Linked DNA regions of Homo sapiens. The protein of the gene in region 1 interacts with the protein of each later gene in a biochemical or structural test. Each region holds a gene or a part of one and is shown on either strand. Other genes may lie near its edges.

What was found.
Region 2: the proteins of PDLIM1 (region 1) and KCNA1 interact in a test that uses a peptide from one of them, tested with the Homo sapiens proteins (one large-scale study listed by IntAct).
Region 3: the proteins of PDLIM1 (region 1) and NRXN3 interact in a test that uses a peptide from one of them, tested with the Homo sapiens proteins (one large-scale study listed by IntAct).
Region 4: the proteins of PDLIM1 (region 1) and NET1 interact in a test that uses a peptide from one of them, tested with the Homo sapiens proteins (one large-scale study listed by IntAct).
Region 5: the proteins of PDLIM1 (region 1) and SLC15A2 interact in a test that uses a peptide from one of them, tested with the Homo sapiens proteins (one large-scale study listed by IntAct).
Region 6: the proteins of PDLIM1 (region 1) and PKN2 interact in a test that uses a peptide from one of them, tested with the Homo sapiens proteins (one large-scale study listed by IntAct).
Region 7: the proteins of PDLIM1 (region 1) and SLC23A1 interact in a test that uses a peptide from one of them, tested with the Homo sapiens proteins (one large-scale study listed by IntAct).

Annotation. Positions count from the first base shown.
Region 1 is NC_000010.11:95,239,004-95,242,503, forward strand, and holds part of PDLIM1 (PDZ and LIM domain protein 1), read right to left. Parts: intron 1-3,500. UniProt on the Homo sapiens protein: Cytoskeletal protein that may act as an adapter that brings other proteins (like kinases) to the cytoskeleton. Involved in assembly, disassembly and directioning of stress fibers in fibroblasts.
Region 2 is NC_000012.12:4,914,867-4,918,756, reverse strand, and holds the end of KCNA1 (potassium voltage-gated channel subfamily A member 1), read right to left. Parts: 3' UTR 501-3,890; downstream 1-500. UniProt on the Homo sapiens protein: Voltage-gated potassium channel that mediates transmembrane potassium transport in excitable membranes, primarily in the brain and the central nervous system, but also in the kidney.
Region 3 is NC_000014.9:79,860,373-79,863,872, reverse strand, and holds part of NRXN3 (neurexin 3), read right to left. Parts: intron 2,835-3,500; coding exon of another isoform or gene 2,532-2,834; coding exon 1,909-2,531; 3' UTR 1-1,908. UniProt on the Homo sapiens protein: Neuronal cell surface protein that may be involved in cell recognition and cell adhesion. May mediate intracellular signaling. Functions as part of a trans-synaptic complex by binding to cerebellins and postsynaptic GRID1.
Region 4 is NC_000010.11:5,419,057-5,422,556, reverse strand, and holds part of NET1 (neuroepithelial cell-transforming gene 1 protein), read right to left. Parts: intron 1-3,500. UniProt on the Homo sapiens protein: Acts as a guanine nucleotide exchange factor (GEF) for RhoA GTPase. May be involved in activation of the SAPK/JNK pathway Stimulates genotoxic stress-induced RHOB activity in breast cancer cells leading to their cell death.
Region 5 is NC_000003.12:121,900,901-121,904,400, reverse strand, and holds part of SLC15A2 (solute carrier family 15 member 2), read right to left. Parts: intron 1-3,500. UniProt on the Homo sapiens protein: Proton-coupled amino-acid transporter that transports oligopeptides of 2 to 4 amino acids with a preference for dipeptides. Transports neutral and anionic dipeptides with a proton to peptide stoichiometry of 2:1 or 3:1.
Region 6 is NC_000001.11:88,687,273-88,690,772, reverse strand, and holds part of PKN2 (serine/threonine-protein kinase N2), read right to left. Parts: intron 1-3,500. UniProt on the Homo sapiens protein: PKC-related serine/threonine-protein kinase and Rho/Rac effector protein that participates in specific signal transduction responses in the cell.
Region 7 is NC_000005.10:139,366,696-139,369,996, forward strand, and holds the end of SLC23A1 (solute carrier family 23 member 1), read right to left. Parts: intron 3,023-3,301; exon of another isoform or gene 2,104-3,022; coding exon of another isoform or gene 2,038-2,103; intron 937-2,037; 3' UTR 501-936; downstream 1-500. Other genes in the region: PAIP2 (polyadenylate-binding protein-interacting protein 2), read left to right, coding at 2,038-2,103.

The DNA.
Region 1 (3,500 bases):
TGGTAGAAGAACAGAGAACAGAGAACCCAGAAACGAGACCACACACCCACAACCATCTGATCTTTGACAAACCTGACAAAAACAAGCAATGAAGAAAGGATTCCCTATTTAATAAATGGTGCTGGGAGACCTGGCTAGCCATATGCAGAAAATTGAAACTGGATCCCTTCTTTACACCATATATAAAAATCAGCTCAAGATGGATTAAAGACTTAAATGTAAAGCCCAAAACTATAAAAACACTACAAGAAAATCTAGGCAATACCATTCAGGACATGGGCATGGGCAAAGATTTCATGATGAAAACCCGAAAAGCAATTGTAACAAAAGCAAAAATTGACAAATGGGATCTAATTAAACTAAAGAGCTTCTGCACAGCAAAAGAAACTATCATCAAAATGAAGAGACAACCCACAGAATGCGAGAAAATTTTTGCAATCTATCCATCTGACAAAGGTCTAATATCCAGCATCTGCAAGGAACTTAAAACAAATTTACAAGAAAAAAATAAGCCGGGCACAGTAGCTCACTTCTGTAATCCCAACACTTTGGGAGGCCGAGGTGGGTGGATCACCTGAGGTCAGGAATTTGAGAATAGCCTGGCCAACATAGCCAAACCCCCTCTCTACTAAAATTACAAAAATTAGCCAGGTGTGGTGGCATGCACCTATAGTTCCAGCTACTCAGGAGGCTGAGGCAAGAGAATCACTTGAACCCAGGAGGCGGAGGTTGCAATGGGCTGAGATTGTGCCACTGCACTCCAGCCTGGGCAACAGAGCGAGACTCCATCTCAATAAAAGAAAAAAATAACCCCATTAAAAAGTGGGCAAAGAACATGAACAGACAGTTTTCAAAAGACATACATGCGGCCAACAAACATGAAAAAAAGCTCGACATCACTGATCATTAGAGAAATACAAATCAAAACCACAATGAGATACCGACTCACGCCAGTCTGAATGGCTATTATTAAAAAGTAAAAAAACAACAGATGCTGGCAAGGTTGTGGAGAAAAAAGAACGCTTTCACACTGTTGGGATGTAAATTAGTTCAAACATTGTGGAAGACAGTGTGGTGAGTCCTCAAAGACCTAGAAGCACAAATACCATTCAGCCCAGCAATCCCATTACTGGATGTATACCCAAAGGAATATAAATCATTCTATCATGAAAATACATGCACTCTTACGTTCATCACAGCACTCACTATTCATGATAGCAAAGACATGGAATCAACCTAAATTCCCATCAATGATAGACTGGATAAAGAAAATGTGGTACGTATACACCAGGGAATACTATGCAGCCATAAAAAGGAACGAGATCTTGTCCTTTGCAGGGACATGGATGGAACTGGAAGCCATTACCCTCAGCAAACTAATGCAGGAACACAAAACCAAATACCACATATTCTCACTTGTAAGTGGGAGCTGAATGATGAGAACAGATGGACACATGGTGGAGGGACAAGACACACTAGGGCCTGTCAGATGGTGGGGAGTGGGGGAAGGAGAACATCTGGAAGAATGGCTGATGGATGCTGGGCTTAATATCTAGGTGATGGGATGATCTGTGCAGCAAACCACCATGGCACGTCATTACCTATGTAACAAACCTGTGCATCCTACACATGTACCCCTGAACTTAAATGTTGGAAATTTAAAAATAAATAAAGTTCTTAGAAAAGAAATCCACATCACAGATAGAACAAAACCATCAGAATACAGCATGCTACAGCAGGCAGATAACAATCATCTCCTACAGAGCAGAGGAAGGAGCCTTTCTGTAGTCAGCCTGGTGCGTGTAAAATAAGCCCCTAGTAGCTAGATGCTGAGCTGCCTAAGGCCCCACTCATCACATCTTAGGTAACAAAGCCCTGTACCATGGTAGCTATTAATAATGGTAAAAATCACCTGGAGGCCTTGTTAACACACAGATTGCTGGGCCCCACCCCCAGAGTTTCTGAGCCAGAAGGCCCAGGATGGGGCCTAAGACTGCATTTCCAACAAGTTCCCAGGCGCCACTGATCCAAGAACCACTGGACAAGAGCAAAGAAACAGCTTCCTGTGCCAGGTGAGGGGATGAAGAGAGGGTCACCCCATGACTGCAGTCACGTCGGGCAATCGCGGGGCTGACAGACAAGGGCCTTAGCTCTCTTGTTCTTTCAGAAAGTGAGTCCCTGTATGCTGACCAATCCTTCCGAACCAAAAATTGAGACACATGTTCACACAATGGACATTTATTAATTGTTTATTTTTACTGATTAGAGATAGCATCTCGCTATGTTGTGTCTCAAAGTCCTGCCCTCCAGCGATCCTCCCACCAGAGCTTCTCCAGTAGCCACTGTGCCTGGCAACAAGGGGCATTTAGAATACATGGTTGACTGTATTTTGACCACAATTACCCCGCCCCTCTCTTGCCATGCTTACCTCCAGTCAGTGGTTCCCTACTGGGGGCAGTTTTGTCTCCTAGAGAGCAGTTTCGATTGTCACAGTGAAAGGGGATGCCACTGGCGTCTAGTGGGCAGAGGTCAGGGATGCTGCTGAACATCCCAAAATACACAGGGCAGCCCCACAACAAGGACTCATATGGCCCAAAATGTCAATAGCACCAAGGCTGAGAAACCCTGCTCTCGATGGAGTAGACTTCCCCATCCTGACTTTAGCCAACGTGAGCAGATGTGAGCCTTATACAGGCAAAAGCACTAAGGGCACTTGTGTGGTTTGGCCCTGTTCCCACAGAGGTATTGCCTCTGCCATGAAAACAGCAAGCACCAGAGTGCCTCTCCCTTCCCTGGGCTTGAATGAGAGGACTCGGGGCCTGGTCCAGCCCTGCCAAGCCCAGCAGAGCCACAGCTATCCGGTAGCCCTCATAAATACAGATTACCCACTGCTGAATAATACAATATGAGAGATGGTTTGGGGTACTTGGCTGGCTTATGGGGAACAACAAGAGGGTATATGTGAATGCAGCCTGAACTCTCAATAGCCCTATCATGCTGCCATGGCTCAGACTTAGGCTTCCCCCCTCAGAGCTGGGACTATTCATCGCTGGGAACCGATGCACACAGATGTCCACCTGGCAGCACATGAGATGGGGCTGAGATTAGGAGGCTCCATGGTTTTAAGTGGTGAGCTCTACAGATGGGCTTGGGGAAGACTCAGTTCTGCCCCACCAGCAGGTGCATAAGGAGAAACCACCTTGGTGCTTCTGTTCTCCCCGAGCCTAGGGCAACTTCTTGCCCTTCCCAAGCCTTCCTCCCTTCCTTTGGGAGGAGGCCAAAGTTCCAACTTTGTTCACCATATATTTTACCTGTATTAATTTTTTTAATATTGCATTTAAATGTCATTTTTTTTCATGATTATTGAGTTTTCCAGTGCCCCCTTAAATTCTGCACTCAAGGCCGGGCGCAGTGGCTCATGCCTGTAATCCCCAGCACTTTGGAAGACCAAGGCGGGCAGATCACTTGAGGTCAGGAGTTCGAGACCAGCCTGGCCAACA
Region 2 (3,890 bases), on another chromosome or scaffold:
AACTATCAAGTCAGTTGATTCCAGACCACAACTCTGTTACACTCACACACACAGTCGTGTCTCTGTCTCTGTCTCCCTCTCTCTCTCTCACACACACACCCACAATTATTCTTCCTGCAAAGCTTCTCAGACTGTGCATAAAAACTAGTTTCAAATCAAAACAACTTAAGTGGATATAACCAATTACTTTGTTCCCCTGAGCCTCATTTCTTGTTTTATTTTGAAAGCTTGATCCTCCTTCCACTCTAACTTCCACAGGCCAAATTCCAGTGGTCTTCACTTGGGATCTTACCTGAGACCAAACTGAATTTATCCTCAAAAGGTAACCCCCGGATATGTCCTTGGACAGCAGAAACAGACCACGTGGGCCAAAGGAAACAAGTCTGTTTCATGATCTGATCTTGGATTCACCCCACTATTTAAAGAGACCCCACAGAAGAAGGGAAGAAAAGGGCCCCCAAAAGACCAGTTAAACAAGAGACAAATAACCAGTCAAGATATTCCTTGATAAGATCCTTAAAAAGTATCTTTAATTGATGCCAAATATGAACAGATCGTAAAGTGACAGAAGCAAGTAAAATTGCATAGATGAAAACTATGCGCATCAATTAGGTTCTCAATTCATAACATTCAATGTCCTTGACCTGACATATTACACAGTTAGAGAAGGGAGAATGCGCAGTAGGTGAAGATGAGACACGTCCTTAACTCAAGGTGGAAGCAACTGGCAAACTCAAGAAATAAAATAGCGTTTTTTCAGCTTAAATGGTTTGTTGTCCTGATGGTGCACTTTAAATTAATACTACTCAATTTTTATTTTTAACCTCAGTAATACTTTATCTTTACTATTAGAGGCATGTCACATGGAGTCCATGTTGTCTACTTACATCTGCTGCATAAACAGTCCCAAAACAGTGCGCTGAAGAGAAGAAAGGTGCTTCTGCAAGGTTTGGAGAGGAGACAACTTTGACCTGGAATATTTTACAAGAGATTTCTTGTTTTGTTTTGTTTTCTTTCCATACACCATTTCTTCTTCTTTGATTGTGGTACAAAAGTTTTCTATACTCTTTGAAGTTTCACGTCATAAAGAGTAAACTCCTAGTTAGCTCCTAAATGAAAATCACTGTGACTAGGGTTAATCTCCTTAAAGCGAAAAGCCCTGAGGTCAGCAGGGCCTCACCCCTTACATACATGCTGGACTTCCCAAGAAAGCCCAGGGTCATTTTGCCTGAGCAAAGAGGCTGGCATTTAATCCCAAGGCTTCTAAACTTTATATCTGTACCCTGAATTAGTTTGCACAGTGACCCAAGGTAATGGAACAGTTTTGGTTAACAATTCAGCTCCTGTTTGCTTCTTTACAAAAATGGTAAGTAACATACATTCTTTAAAGGTTTACCTGAGTCATACTAGACATGTTCACATATACCCTGAAATTCCATGATATAAATACAGGTAGTAATATGCCACATGGTGAATGAGAGTTCACCTCCTGAGATCACAATTCAACTTGGGTTGTGTCTGGTCTTAAAATTTTAGTTTGTTTGTCTTCTTAAAATGAACATAAACATCAAAAGACTTCATTCTTGCTTGGAAAAGCCTGAAGATAACATGCTTGTTTGGCAGTTTATATTCTTTCTAACAATTTTATACTATGGATGGTTACCACCCACCAATTCTCACCACCCCAGGAATAAGTCATTCCTGGAAGAAAATGGGAAAGTGCCTTCTGCTAATGTTCTTTCTCCTTTCTTTCAATCCAATCTACCAAACTAAGAATTAAAATGTAAAATTGTTAAAAAGCATGTGTTTTGAGGTCTCCTATATTAAATGAGAGGGCTAGGAAACTATTTTTATTGACTTTTAGATGGTACCTAATTTGAAAAACGTGTAACTATACACAATGTGAAGAAGGCCTTTTATAGGCTAAACCAAATTTCTACTTTAAAAAAATGTATTCCTCATTTACCATTTACATGTATTTTTTTAATTCTCAAGCAAATCAAGATTGTGACACCACCTGTGCTTCACGTCCACCATAGTGGAATCTAAACCTGCCCTACAATTCATTTCAGGGAAATGACTGCCCACTGGCCAGAATCCTGGAGAAGGACTTGCTATTGGTTTATCTGATTCTGCAAGGCTCACCCACGAACACACTCCCAATGAGCTGATATAACTGAAAATCAGAACTCAAGTCTCCAGGGAGTGCAAGGGGAGTTGGGCACAAATGGGAAAAGGGAGATGCAAAAACAGAAAGTTTTCCTGGCTAGAATTTGTCTTCTAGAAATCTGAGGACAGAGGAAATGAATGTCTTTGGTCTCTCTGATTCAGATCACTTCAGGTGAGTTAACCACTTCAGAGATTCTGGGATGGCTAACAGCCCTGGTGTGACCAACTCTTCTATTGCCACCCTATTGAACTAGGGCCCCAATAGACTGGAAGAGAGGAATTATAGCTATCAGCACATCAGAAGTCTTCTCCTTCTGGAGAAAACACATAGTCAGGACATGAGCTGTTACAGCTCCATGCCTAGGAAGGGGAAGAAAAGGTAAAAAGGCTGCTAAAATAAATATGAATAAGTAAACCAAAAAATAGTCATCCCTTAATAGGCAGTTTTGTTAAGTGCACCTTCAGGTCTACAAAGACATTTCAACACATTACAGTGCGAGGGTAAGAGCTTGGTCAAACATTGCATGCCTATGCTACACAGATAATCCCTGTACTCCATTCTTACTGAATTCATTGCAATGAGCTACAGATGAGCTAAGCAGCATTCACTTTCCTCACACCACCCCAAACTCATAACAACAACTCACCCCCAGTCCCAGACTGACAGGTTCACCGCATGCAGCACTTTTTTCTATATCACATGCAGAAGAATCAACCAGTCCAGAGTGTAACCACGGTAAATATACCAAATACCCAAAGTCAGTCTTGGTGCCGTTTTCTCATCCATTAACCCATCCATCCCACAGTACTGAGTGGATTATTGCTGTTGACAGAGTGCGGTGTTTCAAGTTCTGTGTGCACTAGACCTCAACGTTGAAATGAAAGATCAAGATAACCCCAAGCCTGGGAGGAGGTTGGCATTTTTTTCCTAATTGGGGATTTTTAAGCAAGTAGGAAAGGAATCGCCAGAATGAGTTAAGGTTCAGACGAGAAGGAGACATCACATGGGAGGGTTTAATGCCCTGTAGTCGGATGCTGCGCAGTTCTTGGCCCCTCATCTTCCACGATGTGTGTTGTGTTCATCTCACAGATTCACAAAAGTCACATAGGAAAATAAGATATCCATGTTCTTTCTTTTAATCGAGTTAGCCAGAATGGGTGTAACTCGAGTTTCTAGGGTGATTGCCTCACTGCTAGTTCTAGGACAGGATGGGGGAAAGGGGTGGGAGAAGCAGGACAGATTTTCAGAAGAAGCTGGGCCAGAATGTCAGGTAACAGGCAGCCACATGCTAAGTGCAGAATGAAGATTCCCCACCTCAGGGTCCTTTGAAAGGCTGTGAGTACCTCTCCACCGGTGGGCAGCTGCCGAGCTCCAGAGGCCTGTGTTCCGTGGCTCTCTTTCAGCCAGGAACAGGGTCCCCACCATTCTCTGGGCTGGGTAACGGGGGGGCAGCAGAAGTTAGATGTTCAACCTGTGAAGTGACTGCCAGGTGGGAAGATCATAGGGGCATCAGGAAATATCTGAAAGGGGTAGACCAGGAGGGAAGGCCTAGGAAAGGTTATTATGAACTGAGTGTTCCCACATCCACAACAATGCCTGAAAAGACTGGACCGTCAGAGAGATTTGCAAAGTGCTGTTACCGACAGAGAAAAAAATAAGGAAAGGTGCCAGGAGCACTACACTGGACCTGAGGAAGCCTTGTGTGTCCAAAGTGGCCCTC
Region 3 (3,500 bases), on another chromosome or scaffold:
TGCAACTTACAAAGACCAGCAAGAGTAGATTTCTAAATCTAAGCAGCTGATTGATTTTCATCTGTACAAAAGAAATTGTATATCTGACCCTCCAGAGGACACACTTCATTTTTGTGTGAATATTTGTCTTGCTTTGTCTCTTGCTTTTCGGATAGCTATGGCCATACAACCAGTTTATTGTTTTTCTGTACATTGTTTCCTCTTTACAAAAAGAAAAAGACAACCAGAATATAAACCAAACAGAAATAAACAGGAAAAAAACATTTCTTAAAGCAGTATGTACATAGGTGGCTAAGGAATTATACCAGCAAAAATGTAGTAAAATATGTAAACAAAATCTGAAGTTTTTTTTTTTAATTCTCTTTGACACAGTTAACTGTGACAAAACTAAAATTCACACTTTCTTCACATTTTAAGGTTTGCTTTTTTGTTGTTTTGCTATTTTCTTTTAAAACAACATTCTCATTCCATTTTAAGACTTTAACAGATTTCCTGTGTCAGTCATCCCATCAAACATACCATGATAAATATATCTGTATATATATTTATTTATATATATATTATACTATTAAATTCCTTTTGTGTGTGTGTCACAGCAGCTTTATTCATTTATTTGTTTTTAAAAAAGATGGGTGAAGAGAGAAGTGAGCAAATGGAAGGACAGAGTTATCCATAAATGTCAGGCTACAAAATTAAACCACTATGAAAACCATTGTCACATTCGGGGCGGGGAAAGAACTATGTGTTTTGTACTCTGGCATGACATGGTTGGCTTGTGTGACCTTTTGTGGTTCCATCACGAGTTGAACTCCCCTACTGTCTGGTTTGATAACAGACTTTAATATTGTCTTTTTTATTTGCATGCATTTCAATCAGTCACAGATCCAGCCCACCTCCCCTTCCTCTTCCCTAGGAAAGGCTGTTTTAGTTTGTGGGGCTTTCCTCTTTAACACAATTTGGCTGGGTGAATGGACAGGAACAATATTGTTACGTAAAGCCAATAGCTCTGATAACACCAGCCCTAAACCCATCTGTTCCGGGTTTGGGTGGTAAATTCTGAAATTAGATCCTGGGGGACCAGCTTTTCGAATCAATTTATCATCCGTCACATGAATTTTGCTATGTGTTCAGCAAAGCATCTTATAGGAAACAAACAACAGATTCTAGAGACACCATAACCTGATATGTAGAGTGAACACCATGATAGCTTTTGAGTTCATATGGCAATAGTCTCTCTCGCTTTTGTTTTGAGTTTTTTTCCTCTTCTGATGTCCAGTCATTATCAAAAAAATAAACAAAAACCCAAAAGCCATTTTTCCCCTCAGATCATAAAGTTACACGCACACTGGTCAGAACCAGATAAGGGTTGTGGGTTTTTTTTTTTGTTTGTTTTTGTTTTTTGGTGTTTTTTTCTTTTTTAACTTTTTTCTTTTTTTGTTGTTGTAGTTTTGTTTTTTACATAATTAAACAGAAAAAACATGGTTACAGTCAAGCTTCACAAACATTACAGACTCACTTGGAGTTATGGAACAAGTAAGCCATGAAGTCTTCTACCTTTTAGTAAAAGGTCCTCCGGAGAAGGAAGTTTCCAGGCCTGCGGAAGTGGTGGAGCCACCGTCCGGCTCCAGAGCGCTAAGTGTGTGCTTTATGATACAGCAGGGCACAAAACCTTCTGTCTCCCAGCGACCGCTGGGACCTTGCCGCAGCCGTGGCTGAGCTTTAGAGAGAGATGCATCGCTGTGTGTGTGTGTGTCCTTTAAAAAACGGTTTTCCCCACCAGAGTCGTGGTTATATACCCCATTTCATAGTTCCAGCAGTTCTGACATCTGTGAGATCTCACCGTCCAAAGATTCATAGGCGTGGATAGAAATAACTGTGAAAACTCGCGTGTGAGCAGTGTTCGCATGTTTACACGTAATACTCCCTGTCCTTGTTTTTCTGTTTCTTGTGGCCGCTCTTCGAGCTCTGCTGCTTCTCCTTCATGAGCGTGCCGTTGCTCTGGGCGGAGTTGCTGATGTAGTTCCGCGTCTCGTCCACTTGATAGGACCCCTCGTCCCTGTTCCTGTACTTGTACATGGCGTACAGGAGGATCAAGATGCAGAGGGCGGCAGCAGCCACAATGCCGACGACCATCCCTGTTGTGCTGCTCGACTCCCGGATCACCTCTGAGGCCCCCGGAACCCGTCTGATTCCCGGCTCCGTGGGGTTTGCTGTGGGCACATTACGGAACATGGGGGAAGTAATTAGTGGGCTCTTCAGTTTGGTGCTGTCTAGCTCATAGGCAGTGGGCAACGGAAGCAAGACTATATCAGGCTGGGGTTTGAGATCACGGTTATTCATTTTGCCAGCTGGCAATTTGGGCACCATCCCAGACGAGGAGGAAGCTGTGAAGCGGATCAGCTCAGGGGATAAAGATGTGGTAGTAGTCCTACTAGTTTCGGAGACTTTGTTAGGTCTAAAGTCCTTGGATTCCCACTTGGGCGCATGTGCTTTGTAGCCACCTTCGAAGATTGAAGTGGAAAGACTCTTATCTGTTACCAAGGAGAAGGTGGTGTAAAAATCTTCATCATCAGTAGGGGGCAGGTTAGAGTCAAAGGTTTCCCCTGAGCCATACCCAGATATCACCAAGCCATCATCATCACAACCATCGCTGCCTTGGTCCGACAAGCAAGGTAACCCCGCCTCAGAGGTCATGGACAGGGAATCTTTGGTGGTCTCAATAATGGTGAGGAGGGGGCGAAAGGTAGGGGGGAGTGTAATGGAAGGTGCACGAGTAGCAATAGGAGGGGTAGCTAAAGGGTCTTCTACAAGAAGAGGGATAACTAATTCACCTCCTGGGATGGAAAAGAAAAAGAAAAACAATTAGTATATTTGTAAACAACTCTCACTCAACCAACGTCATTCACAGATTATGCCTCAGAAATTATAATAAAAAGATCTGGATCTTTTCTGGATGGAGTCTAATCATTCTAGGCAGATTTGGAGCCTTCTGTATGCCTCTTGCCACCCAAACCTGAAATCCCTAGATCAGGGGCTTAGATTTTTTAAAGATACTCTCAAGTAATTATTTAGATAAAATTCAACTATATATGTTCTTTCCAGGATCTGCTTATGGGCTGATGACATTCAGTCAATGATACTGTTATAAATACTGGCTGGCTATCAAAATTGGCATGTGTGGGTACACGCACACATTGTGTGCTTAACTTAAGAATTTATTAACATGCGTTTAAGATTTCTTTATTGCCTTCTTGGGATTCTGCTCATTTGCTCCCAGGAGGATGAGAATGACCGATTCACCATCTTATTGAGACCAAGATCAAGAAACATAAAAGATTGTGTCTTTTGTGTTTTCTTAAGTTACTTCCTTTTATTTCACACTTATTAATCACAGTCCTTGTTTACTATAAGCTGAGCAATAGGGATTTTTAAAAAGTTAAAAATATTCATCTAACAAATCCATTTTGACCATGCTTTTCCAGAAATCCCCCTGACTATTA
Region 4 (3,500 bases), about 90 Mb from region 1:
AGGGAAGAGGGAACAGGGGATAATGACAACAGCAAGTAACAGAAGGAAAGAGAAATTCTGAAGGCTTCCATCATTAACAATCCAGTACTCTTTGGAAACAGTGTGGCAATTCCTTAAGATGTTAGTGGTAAGTTTACCGTAGGACCTGATAATTCCACCCCCAAGAATTTACCCAAGAGGAGTGAAAACGTATGTCTACACAAAGACTTTTTTTTTTTTTGAGACGGAGTTTTGCTCTGTCACCCAGGCTGGAGTGCAGTGGTACGATCTCGGCTCACTACAACCTCCGCCTCCAGGGTTCAAGCGATTCTCCTGCCTCAATCTCCCGAGTAGCTAGGATTACAGGGGCACGCCACCATGCCCAGCTAAATTTTATATTTTTAGTAGAGACAGGCCATGTTGACCAGGCTGGTCTCGAACTCCTGACCTCAGGTGATCCACCCGCCTCGGCCTCCCAAAGTGCTGGGATTATAGGCGTGAGCCACCGCGCCCAGCCTACACTAAGACTTACATGCAAATGTTCATAGCAGCATTATCCATAAAAGCACCAAACTGGAAACAAATCAAATGTACAACAGCTGGTAAATGGAGTTGACAAAATGTAGTATATTCATATAATGGAATATGGTTTGGCAATAAAATGAAATACTGATGTAAGTGAAAGAAGGCAGAAGCAGAAAGACTACACATTGTATGATTCCACTTGTATGTCCTGAAAATAGAAATTTATAGAGCTAGAAAGCAGATCAGTGGCTGCCTAGGGCTGGGGTGGGAGCAGGGATATTTGGGGTGATGAAATGTTCTAACAATGGATTGTGGTAATGACTGCACAACTCTATAAATTTACTGATAATTACTGAATTGTTCACCTACAAAGGGTGAATGTTATGATATACAAATCATATCTCAATAAACTATTTAAAAACATAGTCAACTTATTTGGGACCACATGGCCTTACAAGCTTCTGTGAGCATGCCTTTTATTTTTGGCAACTACTACTACTAATAATAAAGATCCTGGGTTGTCAAGAATTGATTTAAGGCTATACCTTTAACTGGATATCCACTGTACAAATCCATCAATTAATTTTACTGGAAAAACAAAATTCAAAGAGTAAGCCTTATCACTGTTGGTAGATCATAGGTCATACTATTATTTTTCTACCAATGGACAGCATTATTTCAAATCTGCAAAAAAGGAAAATATAAAATCCTTAAAAGGATCAGTATGTATTTATATTTCTGCCATATGGGTGATATGTAAAGTTCTATGGCTTTCCCTAAGGCCCCGAAAGACAGAAATAAAATTATTTAAACATTACTTGTGTCCAATTTTCAGGACCTTAGACATAGGTACTATGAAGTGAGATTTAGAGACTAAGTAACTTGCCCAAGGTCCTTAAGAGCCAGAATTTGAACCTAGGAAGTCTGACTGCTTTTAATGCCTAAAATCTTTAAACGTTACTCTTTGTCTATGGGTTCTAGTCTAAAAGAATGTTAAAAGAATATACATTCTCAAAGGAGAAGACAGAAAATAATTAGGTAAATCAAAGCTGAGGCCAGAACAGACTTGGTATCAAAAAAACTAGGCCAGAAAAGCAGTCCTCGTTCTGAGCTCTCAATCATGTAGTATAACCTAGGGTTCTTTAGAAAGACCCTTGCTGGCCGGGCACAGTGACTCATACTTGTAATCCCAGCACTTTGGGAGGTCAAGGTGGGCGGTTCACGAGGTCAGGAGATCAAAACCATCCTGGCCAACATGGTGAAACCCCGTCTCTACTAAAAATACAAAAATTAGCTGGGCGTGGTGGCGCTTGCCTGTAATCCCAGTTACTCGGGAGGCTGAGGAAGGAGGATCACTTGAACCAGGGAGTCGGAGGCTACAGTGAGCCGAGATCGCGCCACTGCACTCCAGCCTGGCGACAGAGCAAGACTCCATCTCAAAAATAAATAAAAAAATAAAATAAAAAAGAAAGACCTTTGCCTACTACCCAGAACTGGGAGGTGAGGAGAAAGACGTTAAGAGGCCTGTCATATTGTAGGGAATATCTACATAGAAAACATAACTGCTGCCCCAGAGAAACTTGCACAGGTGTATAGAGGAGATGTATCAACAAACAACCTAAAATCCCAAATACATCTTATACAACATACCAAATATATTCCACCTGAGTTATAAAAATTGTATATTATAATATCTCACTGTACAGAATATCATAATGTATTTAGCTTCCTCCTCCTGTTTTTTCTAACCTTTCTACTACACAAATGTGCTAGGATATACTTTCTTGTACATACATCCATGTATACTTGCCCATTACTTTAAGATAAATTTCTGTGGGTAGAACTGCTTGGTTTAAATATTTGCATTAAAATTTTGTTTTATTTGCTATATTTCCCTTCAAATACACATAATGGGAATATCAGAAAGAGAGGAAAAGAGAAAAGAGCAGAAAAAAACTTCAGAGAAACAATGGCTGAAGCTTCTCCAAATTTATTGAAAAACAACCACCTACACATTCAGAAAAAGCTCAATAAACTTCAAGTAAGATAACACAAAGATATCCACAGACAGACACATCATAGTAAAAATGGCAAAAGTTAAAGATAAGAAAATCTTAAAAGCAGCAAGAGAAAAAAACACTTGTTATTTACAAGGAACCCCAAAAAGATTCTGACTTCTTAACAGAAACAATGGAAGACAGAAGCAGTGTGATAACACATTCAAAGTGCTCAAAGAAAAAGAAAATTTCAGCAAAGAATCCTATACTATCAAAATTATCTTTCGAGAATGAAGGAGAAACAAAGACATTCCCATAAAAACAACAACAACAACAACAACAACAACAAAACAAAGAAAAAAAACAAACAGAGAATTTGTTGGTAGCGGACTTGCCTTACAAGAAATACCATAAGAATTTCTGGCTGAAAGCCAGTGACCACAGACGGTAATCTGAGTTCACATACAAAACCCAAAAAAGCCTAGTAAAAGCAGTGTCAATGAAAAAAATCAGTAAAGAAATTCAAATGCTATAAATTAGAAAATTCTCACTTAATGCAAAAGAAAGCAATAAAGGAGGAATAGAGAAACAAAAGACATATATAACACGACAAAATGGCAGACATAAATCCAACTATATCAATAAATAACGTTAAATGTGATTGGAGTAAACAACCCAATCAAAAGAAATGGACAGCCAGACAGGATCAAAACCAACCAACCAACCAACCAACCAACCAACCAACCAACCAAGATCCAACTATATGCTGTCCACAGGAGACACACTTTAGTTTCACAGATATAAACAGCTTGAAAATAAAGGGATAAACACGTATCATGCAAACAGCAAGCCACAAGAAAGCTAGAGTAGCTATATTAACATCAAACAAAATGGCCTTTCAAAGAAAAAAATGTTACCAAAGAGGGATATTTTATAGTGATAAACAGATTGATCCATCAGGAAGATACAATTACAAACATATGTGCATATAAAAACAGC
Region 5 (3,500 bases), on another chromosome or scaffold:
CACTTCTATTCAACATAGTGTTGGAAGTTCTGGCCAGGGCAATTAGGCAGGAGAAGGAAATAAAGGGTATTCAATTAGGAAAAGAGGAAGTCAAAATGTCCCTGTTTGCAGATGACATGATTGTATATCTAGAAAACCCCACTGTCTCAGCCCAAAATCTCCTTAAGCTGATAAGCAACTTCAGCAAAGTCTCAGGATACAAAATCAATGTACAAAAATCACAAGCATTCTTATACACCAATAACAGACAAACAGAGAGCCAAATCATGAGTGAACTTCCATCCACAATTGCTACAAAGAGAAAAAAATACCTAGGAATCCAACTTACAAGGGATGTGAAGGACCTCTTCAAGGAGAACTACAAACCATTGCTCAATGAAATAAAAGAGGATACAAACAAATGGAAGAACATTCCATGCTCATGGATAGGAAGAGTCAATATCGTGAAAATGGCCATACTGCCCAAGGTAATTTATAGATTCAATGCTATCCCCATCAAGCTACCAATGACTTTCTTCAGAGAATTGCAAAAAACTACTTTAAAGTTCATATGGACGCAAAAATAGCCCACATTGCCAAGACAATCCTAAGCCAAAAGAACAAAGCTGGAGGCATCAGGCTACCTGACTTCAAACTATACTACAAGGCGACAGTAACCAAAACAGCATGGTACTGGTACCAAAACACATATATAGACCAATGGAACAGAACAGAGGCCTCAGAAATAACACCACACATCTACAACCATCTGATCTTTGACAAACCTGACAAAAACAAGCAATGGGGAAAGGATTCCCTATTTAATAAATGGTGCTAGGAAAACTGGCTAGCCATATGTAGAAAGCTGAAACTGGATCCCTTCCTTACACCTTATACAAAAATTAATTCAAGATGGATTAAAGACTTACATGTTAGACCTAAAACCATAAAAACCCTAGAAGAAAACCTAGACATTACCATTCAGGACATAGGCATGGGCAAGGACTTCATGTCTAAAACACCAAAAGCAATGGCAACCAAAGCCAAAATTGACAAATGGGATCTAATTAAATTAAAGAGCTTCTGCACAGCAAAAGCAACTACCATCAGAGTGAACAGGCAACCTACAGAGTGGGAGAAAATTTTTGCAATCTACCCATCTGACAAAGGGCTAATATCTAGAATCTACAAAGAACTTAAACAAATTTACAAGAAAAAAACAACACCATCAAAAAGTGGGCAAAGGATATGAACAGACACTTTTCAAAAGAAGACATTTATGCAGCCAACAGACACATGAAAAAATGCTCATCATCACTGGCCATCAAAGAAATGCAAATCAAAACCACAATGAGATACCATCTCACACCAGTTAGAATGGCAATCATTAAAAAGGCAGGAGACAGCAGATGCTGGAGAGGATGTGGAGAAATAGGAACACTTTTACACTGGTTGGTGGGACTGTAAACTTGTTCAACCATTTCAACCATTGTGGAAGACAGGGATCTAGAACTAGAAATGCCATTTGACCCAGCCATCCCATTACTGGGTATATACCCAAAGGATTATAAATCATGCTACTATAAAGACACATGCATACATATGTTTACTGCAGCACTATTCACAATAGCAAAAACTTGCAACCAAGCCAAATGTCCATCAATGATAGACTGGATTAAGAAAATGTGGCACATATACACCATGGAATACTATGCAACCATAAAAAAGGATGAGTTCATGTCCTTTGCAGGGACATGGATGAAGCTGGAAACCATCATTCTGAGGAAACTATCACAAGGACAGAAAACCAAACACCACATGTTCTCACTCATAGGTGGGAATTGAACAATGAGAACACTTGGACACCAGGCGGGGAACGTCACACATGGGGGCCTGTCATGGGGTGGAGGGCTGGTGGAGGGATAGCATTAGGAGAAATACCTAATGTAAATGGCGAGTTCATGGGTGCAACAAACCAACATGGCACATGTATACCTATGTAACAAACCTGCACGTTGTGCACGTGTACCCTAGAACTTAAAGTATAATAAAAAATAAAAATTAAAATTAAATTAAAATAAAAAAATAATAAACACGTTTAAGAGAGTGGTTCTAAGTGATTGCCCAGGTCAAAAATCAAAACTGATGAGCCTGGGTAATAGGATATAAAATCTAGGAACTATGACTAAAAATGTTTTCCTTTCTTAAAACCAACTTGACACTACAAATAGCATCCTTGAGAAACCAATATGCATGTTTAATAATTTTTGTTTTCCCACTGCGTACCTATTGATTAGTCTTTCCTGTATGTAGCTCTGAAGGAAGCCTCACTTCTTTCCTGGCATAGGGAGTTCCTTAAACAAGAGTCAGGGACTCTGGATGCCCATTTCCTCTTAACATATCTATTATTCTGGGATAGCAAACAGAGGAAAGATTTTTAATAGAAGTTGTTTACTAACTTCAGGAAATTGCCCCTTCAGGGTTTGAACAATCTTTCTAATGTTAGAGAAGGCTTTTCACCCTCAAAGTAACACGTGAATAAAAGTAAACACACCACACACACACACACACACACAAACACATACTCAGGCAGAGAAACATATGAGAGGTGGGGAAGAACTTAACGGTTTGAAACAAAAATCTATCCATTTTCCTCTAGCAAATGAAGAAAATAGGCTACAGGTTCAAATTAGAAAAGACAGTAAAGGAAGAGTCTTGTCTTTTTTCTGATTTTCCAACTTAAGGAAGGGTAGTTTTAAATACTTATTCCCTTTTGTTGCTGTTATCATCTGTTTGTATATGTTACACACACATGCACACGCACACACACACAAACATGACTACAGGAGAACAAGTTACCCACATTTTCTCAAACTACTCCCTTTGTGAAAGAGATACAAATCACCCCCAAGTTTTCTTATTTAAAAAGCAACCAAAATACCCACAATAAAATAAAAGTAACCTTCATGCCTGTCTACATCTATCTGCAGTCATGTGGCTACATTTGAGGGTCTGAGGGTGAATAAATTTATGAATTCGAAGATTTACTGTGGGCCTATCTGCTAGGCACTATTCTACGTGCTCTTGGATAAAAATATAAATCACAGCCGGGCACAGTGGCTCACACTTGTAATCCCAGCAGTTTGGGAGACAGAGGTGGGTGGACCACTTGAGGTCGAGTTCGAGACCAGCCTGGCCAACATGGTGAAATCTCATCTCTACTAAAAATACAAAAATTAGCCGGGCATGGTGGTACATGCATATAATCCCAGATACTCAGGAGGCTGAGGCAGGAGAATCGCTTGGACCTGGGAGGCAGAGGTTGCAGTGAGCCGAGATTGCATCACTGCACTCCAGCCTGGGTGACAGAGCGAGACTTTGCCTCAACGACAAAAAATATGTATATTATATATATACTTATATATTATACATATTATATACATTCATATAATATATAAATGACTGGGGTGGGTGGGGAAAAATATATATAAATGACTTTGTCCTCTAAGTGTTTGAAAGAA
Region 6 (3,500 bases), on another chromosome or scaffold:
TTCATTTTTTACAGGCAATATTTATGTATATAATGTTACACAAATTTCATTTTTGTGATTGCAAAAAAAAACCAAGTATGATAATAGAGCTAGTTTCAAACAAGATTTCATCAGATAAAATTAAGACAAGCTAGACATGCATCAAGATAAAGATTCTCTATTTCTGTTTCATTAAGGAATTACTTTTTCATTAGTATATTTTTCCCACTCTAAATTTTAAATCTTTTTAAAGCTTTTAACTAGTTTTCAACTTTGCTGTCAAGTTTGAACTCTGCTGTATATCAAAAGTTGATCATATTAAATGTCATATACTGTAGAGTAAAATTGGCTTTTGAAATAATATAGACATTTGACAATTATCAGCACAGTATATTTTATGAGGGAATAATGTAGAATTAACTGTTTTATTCAAATACCATTTATGGTATGAAAGTAACATTATTTTAGGTGATGTTTACAAACTACTACTTTATTTGTTTAAAAGTAAACATGCTTCTGATGAATGGCATGAAAATTTACCATTGCCAAATTCAAAAAGCAGAAATAAGAGAGCCCAAGGAATCAGATGCTAAGCTCTGGGATAAAGAGATGATGTCTAAAAGGTGCCCCTACTTGTCCCTATTTCAACACTATGTGAATGGTAGGAATTGCATGATACTAGACCTAATCTCTATTACACTAATGAGAGATGACAAAAAAATCCATTTTAGAGCCATCATTTAGTAACACTAGTTTTAACACAGACTTTTATCTTGGTAGTCAAGAAATATTTGGAAAGTTATTTAGTATGTTTAATTCAGCAAAGTATGCGCTGCAAATTACAAACATTGTGGTAGTCTATAAGAGCAGCAACAATCAAACCTAAGCCGGAAAAACACACTGTATTGCTATATTATTCAAAGAAATTGTTGCTATACTTCATTACTGTCTATTACTAAATCCATACTACTGCACTTTTCTTTGAGACAGGTTCTCACTCTGTCACCAAGGCTGGAGTGCAGTTGCGTGATCTCAGCTCACTGCAACCTCCGCCTCCTGAGTTCAAGCAATTCTTGTGCCTCAGCCTCCCAAGTAGTTGGGATTACAGGCACACATCACCACACCTGGCTAATTTTTGTATTTTTAGTAGAGACAGGGTTTCACCAAGTTGGCCAGGCTAGTCTCGAACTCCTGACCTCAGGTGATCCGCCTGTCTCAGCCTCCCAAAGCACTGGAATTACAGGTGTGAGCCACTATGCCCAGCCTGCACTTTTCTTCTTAATAAAGCCGTGACTCATAATTGAAATATTTTGAGATTAAAAAAGGCAATAAAAGCTAATTAGATCCACTCATCTAGAACCAGTGGCAAGAAAAAAGTTTTTAACCTACTGTGATTTCTATCTTAAAATTCTCTGAGCTTCATTTTTCTTCAAAATTCTAGTAAGTAAAATGAGATAAAGAAAAAAAAGAAAAAATGGACTCTACAGCCATGGGACTTTTAGGTGGAAAAAGTCTGTCAGTCTCTAAGTGACAGAACTATGAGCAACTTTTATTTTCTTTTGTGCTTTTCCACATTTTCTGGATTTTCTGTAATACATGTGCATTACATTTCTAATTTGAAAACAATGTAAAGTCTGTCTTAACTACCCTGTTTACCTTCTCATACCACCAACCCCCAAACCACCCTAAAATTTTAATCCTCCCAACTCAGACCTTCCACTTTCCAGTGTCACTGCAAAATTAGATGCCGTCTTCTCATTTTCCATTAAATGAGTAAACTACCAGTGTGCTATATGGAAGAATGATGTAACTACTATAGAAATCCCTTTTGTACTTTTAAAGAGAATATTTTTGGGAGAAGGGATTAGAAATGTAAATTAAAGAAAACTACGTAATTTCATATGTCAAAGATTATAATGAACTTCTCTTAAAATAACCTAGACATCCCTCCTCCTACGTGACAAATGGAGCATTCTCATCAATGTATTGCGCACCTACTAAGTGTCAAACACAGAGCTAGGTTACATGTGAGTATAAAATTTTAAAGCAAAGCACAGTCTACAGAGTAATGTTAAATCTTTTGGGAAGTTTTGGGCAAGCATGTGACACCTTTCATTAGAAACAGTAATTCTTAATGAAGAAACCCTGTAAAAAGATTATTTGTACTATTATTCTTTGTGAAATATTAGACTGTATCTACAATAATAAAACACTGCTAAATTATAGACTACCAAGTGGAATGTAGAAATCATTTTTCCTTGTTACAGACGGAGCTAACAAGTAGTGTAAAGTTAATGTTGGTTAATTACGTTTTTGGCCAATTTGTAGAAAGTTCATACAACTATAACATTAGATGCAAAACATTTATAGTTCCCCAGAACTGTGGCAATTTAAATAATGGTGTAGTGGCGCCGGGCATGGTGGCTCACACCTGTAATCCCAGCACTTTGGGAGGCCGAGGCAAGCGAATCACGAGGTCAGGAGTTCAAGACCAGCCTGGCCAACATAATGAAACCCCGTCTCTACTAAAAATACAAAAAATTAGCCGGGTGTGGTGGCAGGTGCCTGTAATCCCAGCTACTTGGGAGGCTGAGGCAGGAGAATCGCTTGAACCTGGGAGGTGGAGATTGCAGTGAGCAGAGATCACACCACTGCACTCTAGCCTGGGTGACAGTGCGAGACTCCGTCTCCAGAAAAAAAAAAAAGAATAGTGTAGTGGGAAACATACAGACCTGGGTTCAAACTCAGACACACAATGTAACCATGAGCAATTTCCTTAACATTCTTGAACTTGTTTCCTGATCCACAACATGGAAATAACACCTACCTTATTGGATTGTTGTGAAGATCAAATAAGGTGTATAGGACACTAAGTACAATGTCTGATATATAGCAAATAATTTTTAAAATGTTATTTGTAGTCTCTTATAATTATCTTCTAGTACAATTATCTATACTCTCTTCTGGAAAGCAAAAACCTATCTTGTCATCTTTATATCCTCCAATATAGCTTTGGTAGATACTACATAACTGTTTGGTGAAATTAACCCCTGTAATTTAAGGGTAACTATCTCAACTTTCCACTTGAGCAAGTTACCTCTATCTAAATAAAATCTGCTGAGAATGGAATTTAAGATTCCCAGACCAACACTTTATTGGGCATTTTGATGAAGAAAATGAATCTCCAATAATCAACAAGGTAGCTTTGTTAGTACACTGCTCAATATTTGGTCTGCATTCTACAAAATTACCATTGTAGCCAACACTTTCATTCTGAGATTCTTTACAGTTTTCATTAATCCAGGTTTCTTGGAAATAGACTTTAGTTTCTTTGGCATTGCAAAAATGTCTGTTTTCTGCTATACTTCAAATAAAAAAAGAGAATACAACACAACAAATTAGTTATGAGATAAAAATTAGAAATTGGCCATTTTAAACAGCCGATTTTTATTTTTACTACAGTAAATATTCTTCCTTATACCTTGAAACCTCTAGCCACCAAAGTTTACATAGTTTATTAA
Region 7 (3,301 bases), on another chromosome or scaffold:
GGTTTGTTCTTCTCAGTCTATTTGATATTACTTTGTTTCATTCTTCTGTTGCTCCCAGAAAATTGTTCATTTAAGAACACTGTGCCTGGATGTGGTGGCTCATGCTTGTAATCCCAGCACTTTGGGAGGCCAAAGTGGGAAGATTACTTTGGCCCAGGAGTTCGAGACCAGCCTGGGCAACAAAGGGAGACCCTGTTTCTACAAAAAGTTTAAAGTTAGCTGGGTGTGGTGGCACAGGCCTGTGGTCCCAGGTACTTGGGAGGCAGAGGCCAGAGGATCACTTGAGCCCAGGAGGCCGATGCTGCAGTGAGCTGTGATTGTTCCGCTGCCCTCCAGTCTAAGCAACAGAGCGAGTCCATGTCTCAAAAAAAGAGAAAAGGAATGCTGCTTTTTTTTCTTAAACTTCACACTTTTAAAATGTAGATACATTATTTCCCTTGGGGGAAGGGAGAATATATCCTGTCCAAAGAAACTGCTATGTATAAATTACGAAACTAAAATTATTTCTTCAACATGATGTTTAATATTATGCATTAGTCTTGAAGTGATGTAGGGTCAAATTCAATGTAAAAGCCTTGCAGCATACCTACATTTCAGGCCCTGGAACCTGCCCTCATTTCTTTTTATTTTTTTCAACTTGCAGTCTAAAATATCACAGAGGAAAATTTCTAGCTGTTCTTCCTAGATGCTGACAAGTCTACTTAGGAGAGTAAAGATTTAGAGACATAGCATAACATTGGTACAAGTCTCTAAGACTCAGACTTTGGCCCATTCCCCCCCACCCCTTTTTTTTTAACTGATGCAAAAATTTGAATCCCAGAGAAAGGTGACTTATCTGAGTTTACACAGAAGTTAGTTAGGGGCAGGGCTGGGATTTCAGGCTTAGGTCTTCTGGTTCCCCATGTAGTTTTCTTTTCCTGTTATATACCATGCTTCCTGTGGGAATTAGAAGATGGCAATTGTAGAAAAACAACTCCACATTTTTAGTGAGGATTCTAAAGTAAAATCAGCAATTCCCCAGTTACTTTAATCATAATTTCAACACTTGTTTAACATGGTTCCTTGGTATTTAGTGTTTAAAGAAAGCTACATACCATAGTTCGATTAACAGAATTCCTTGTTCCGTGCTATTCCTTTAACTTATGTGAAGTTACTGGATTTCTGGTTACACTTAAGCAAACTGAATTTCAATTCCTATTTTCTCTTTAGAAAATTGATGTAATTTAGGCCGGGTGCAGTGGCTCACGCCTGTAGTCCCAGCATTTTAGGAGGCCGAGGCAGGCAGATCACGAGGTCAGATCAACACCATCCTGGCTAACATGGTGAAACCCCTTCTCTACTAAAAATACGAAAAATTAGGCCGGGCGCGGTGGCTTACGCCTGTAATCCCAGCACTTTGGGAGGCCAAGGCGGGCGGATCACGAGGTCAGGAGATCGAGACCATCCTGGCTAACATGGTGAAACCCCGTCTTTACTAAAAATACAACAAAAAATTAGCTGGGCGTGGCGGTGGGCGCCTGTAGTCCCAGCTACTCAGGAGGATGAGAGACAGGAGAATGGTGTGAACCCGGGAGGCGGAGCTTGCAGTGAGCTGAGATCGCGCCACTGCACTGCAGCCTGGGTGACAGAGTGAGACTCCGTCTCATAAAAAAAAAACTAAATAAATAAATAAAAATACAAAAAATTAGTTGGGTGTGGTGGCACGCGCCTGTAGTCCCAGCTACTCAGGAGGCTGAGGCAGGAGAATCGCTTGAACCCAGGTGGCAGAGGTTGCAGTAAGCCTAGATTGTGCCACTGCACTCCAGCCTGGGCGACAGAGCAAGACTCCGTCACAAAAAAAGAAAAGAAAAAGTTGATGTAATTTAATATGATATATAGCTTACATCTGGTTCTTCCTTTTTGGGGTTTAGTATAGTCTTACAGACTGAGTTCTTTTGTCTTTTTTTTTTTGGAAGATGTTTTTGCATGAGGATCTAGATTGAATTAGTACCTGAAACTGTGTTAATGAACTTGCTTTTTTATGTACTTATTTTCCAGGTCAAGAGCAATCTGAATCCAAATGCAAAGGAGTTTGTTCCTGGGGTGAAGTACGGAAATATTTGAGTAGACGGGGCCCTCTTTTGGTGGATGTAGCACAATTTCCACACTGTGAAGGCAGTATTAGAAGACTTAATTGTAAAAGCTCTCTTGTCACTGTGTTACACTTATGCATTGCCAAAGTTTTTGTTAGTCTTGCATGCTTAATAAAAGTGCTGAGACTGTTACTAAGTAAAAAGCTGTCAAACATTTACTGAAAATAGAATTGGCCCCATGGCTTGATGTGAAGACAGCAAGGAAAGAAGCACCAGTCAAGTTGTGAACAAGCACCAAATTAAAAGACCTAAACCTTACCAAATTGTCTTTTTTTGAGGCTAATCTATCACTTGTTAATGTCTAAACTTTAAAATCAGTACATTTAATTTGAGTTCCAACTGTTAAGCATATTTCTCAGACTTAAATTTGATTATGTCCCCATCAAAAAGAATCTCCATTTTCTGAAGGTCTGTTAGTTAATTTGAGATAATTTGTTAAAGGCAAGTATGTCATATTACTGAGGCTACAAGTTAGTCAGCAGATGAGTGCCAGTCCAGCCTTTTCTGGTATGTTATTGTTAGAAATATTGAGTTCTAATGTTACATCTGAGGAAGTATGTAATTTGAGAATTGTAACTTCTAAGGGATTCACTGCATCATAGCTATGCCTGTATGGAGTCTAACATATGACCAATACCAACCCATAATCCAGCTGAACAAAGATACTGTAACATGATTTGAGTGGTGCTTTTCCTTGCTTTGTTAACCATCACGAGAGTCTGCAGCACAACTTTTAACAAAGCTAGAACAGTTTTGGCTTCTTAAACTTCATATTTGGGTAGGTTAAGCTGCCATACGTGTTCAGTGTGAATAGTGTTTAAGTTGAAAATATTGTAAAAAAATTATATTTTTTCAAAAATATTTAAAAAAATAAATAATAGTAGAACTGAGCAGATGGTTGTGTTTATTGGTGCTGGAATGTACTGTAGTGGTGTTACTCACTTGAGTATGGGCCCAGTGCCTCAGGACAATCTTGCTGGCAAAATGTGCTAAGCTTTCAGGCTTTGTTAGATTCTAACAGGTATGTTGCCATGCAAGTACCTTTCCAGAATATAGCAGTAGAATAACTCCATTGCCCATCCTTGCTTCTTAATCACCTCAGACTTCAGTGTCAGGGGAATCCTAGATAGTCATGTAAGAAACTTTATGGCTGACCAATATGATGGTGA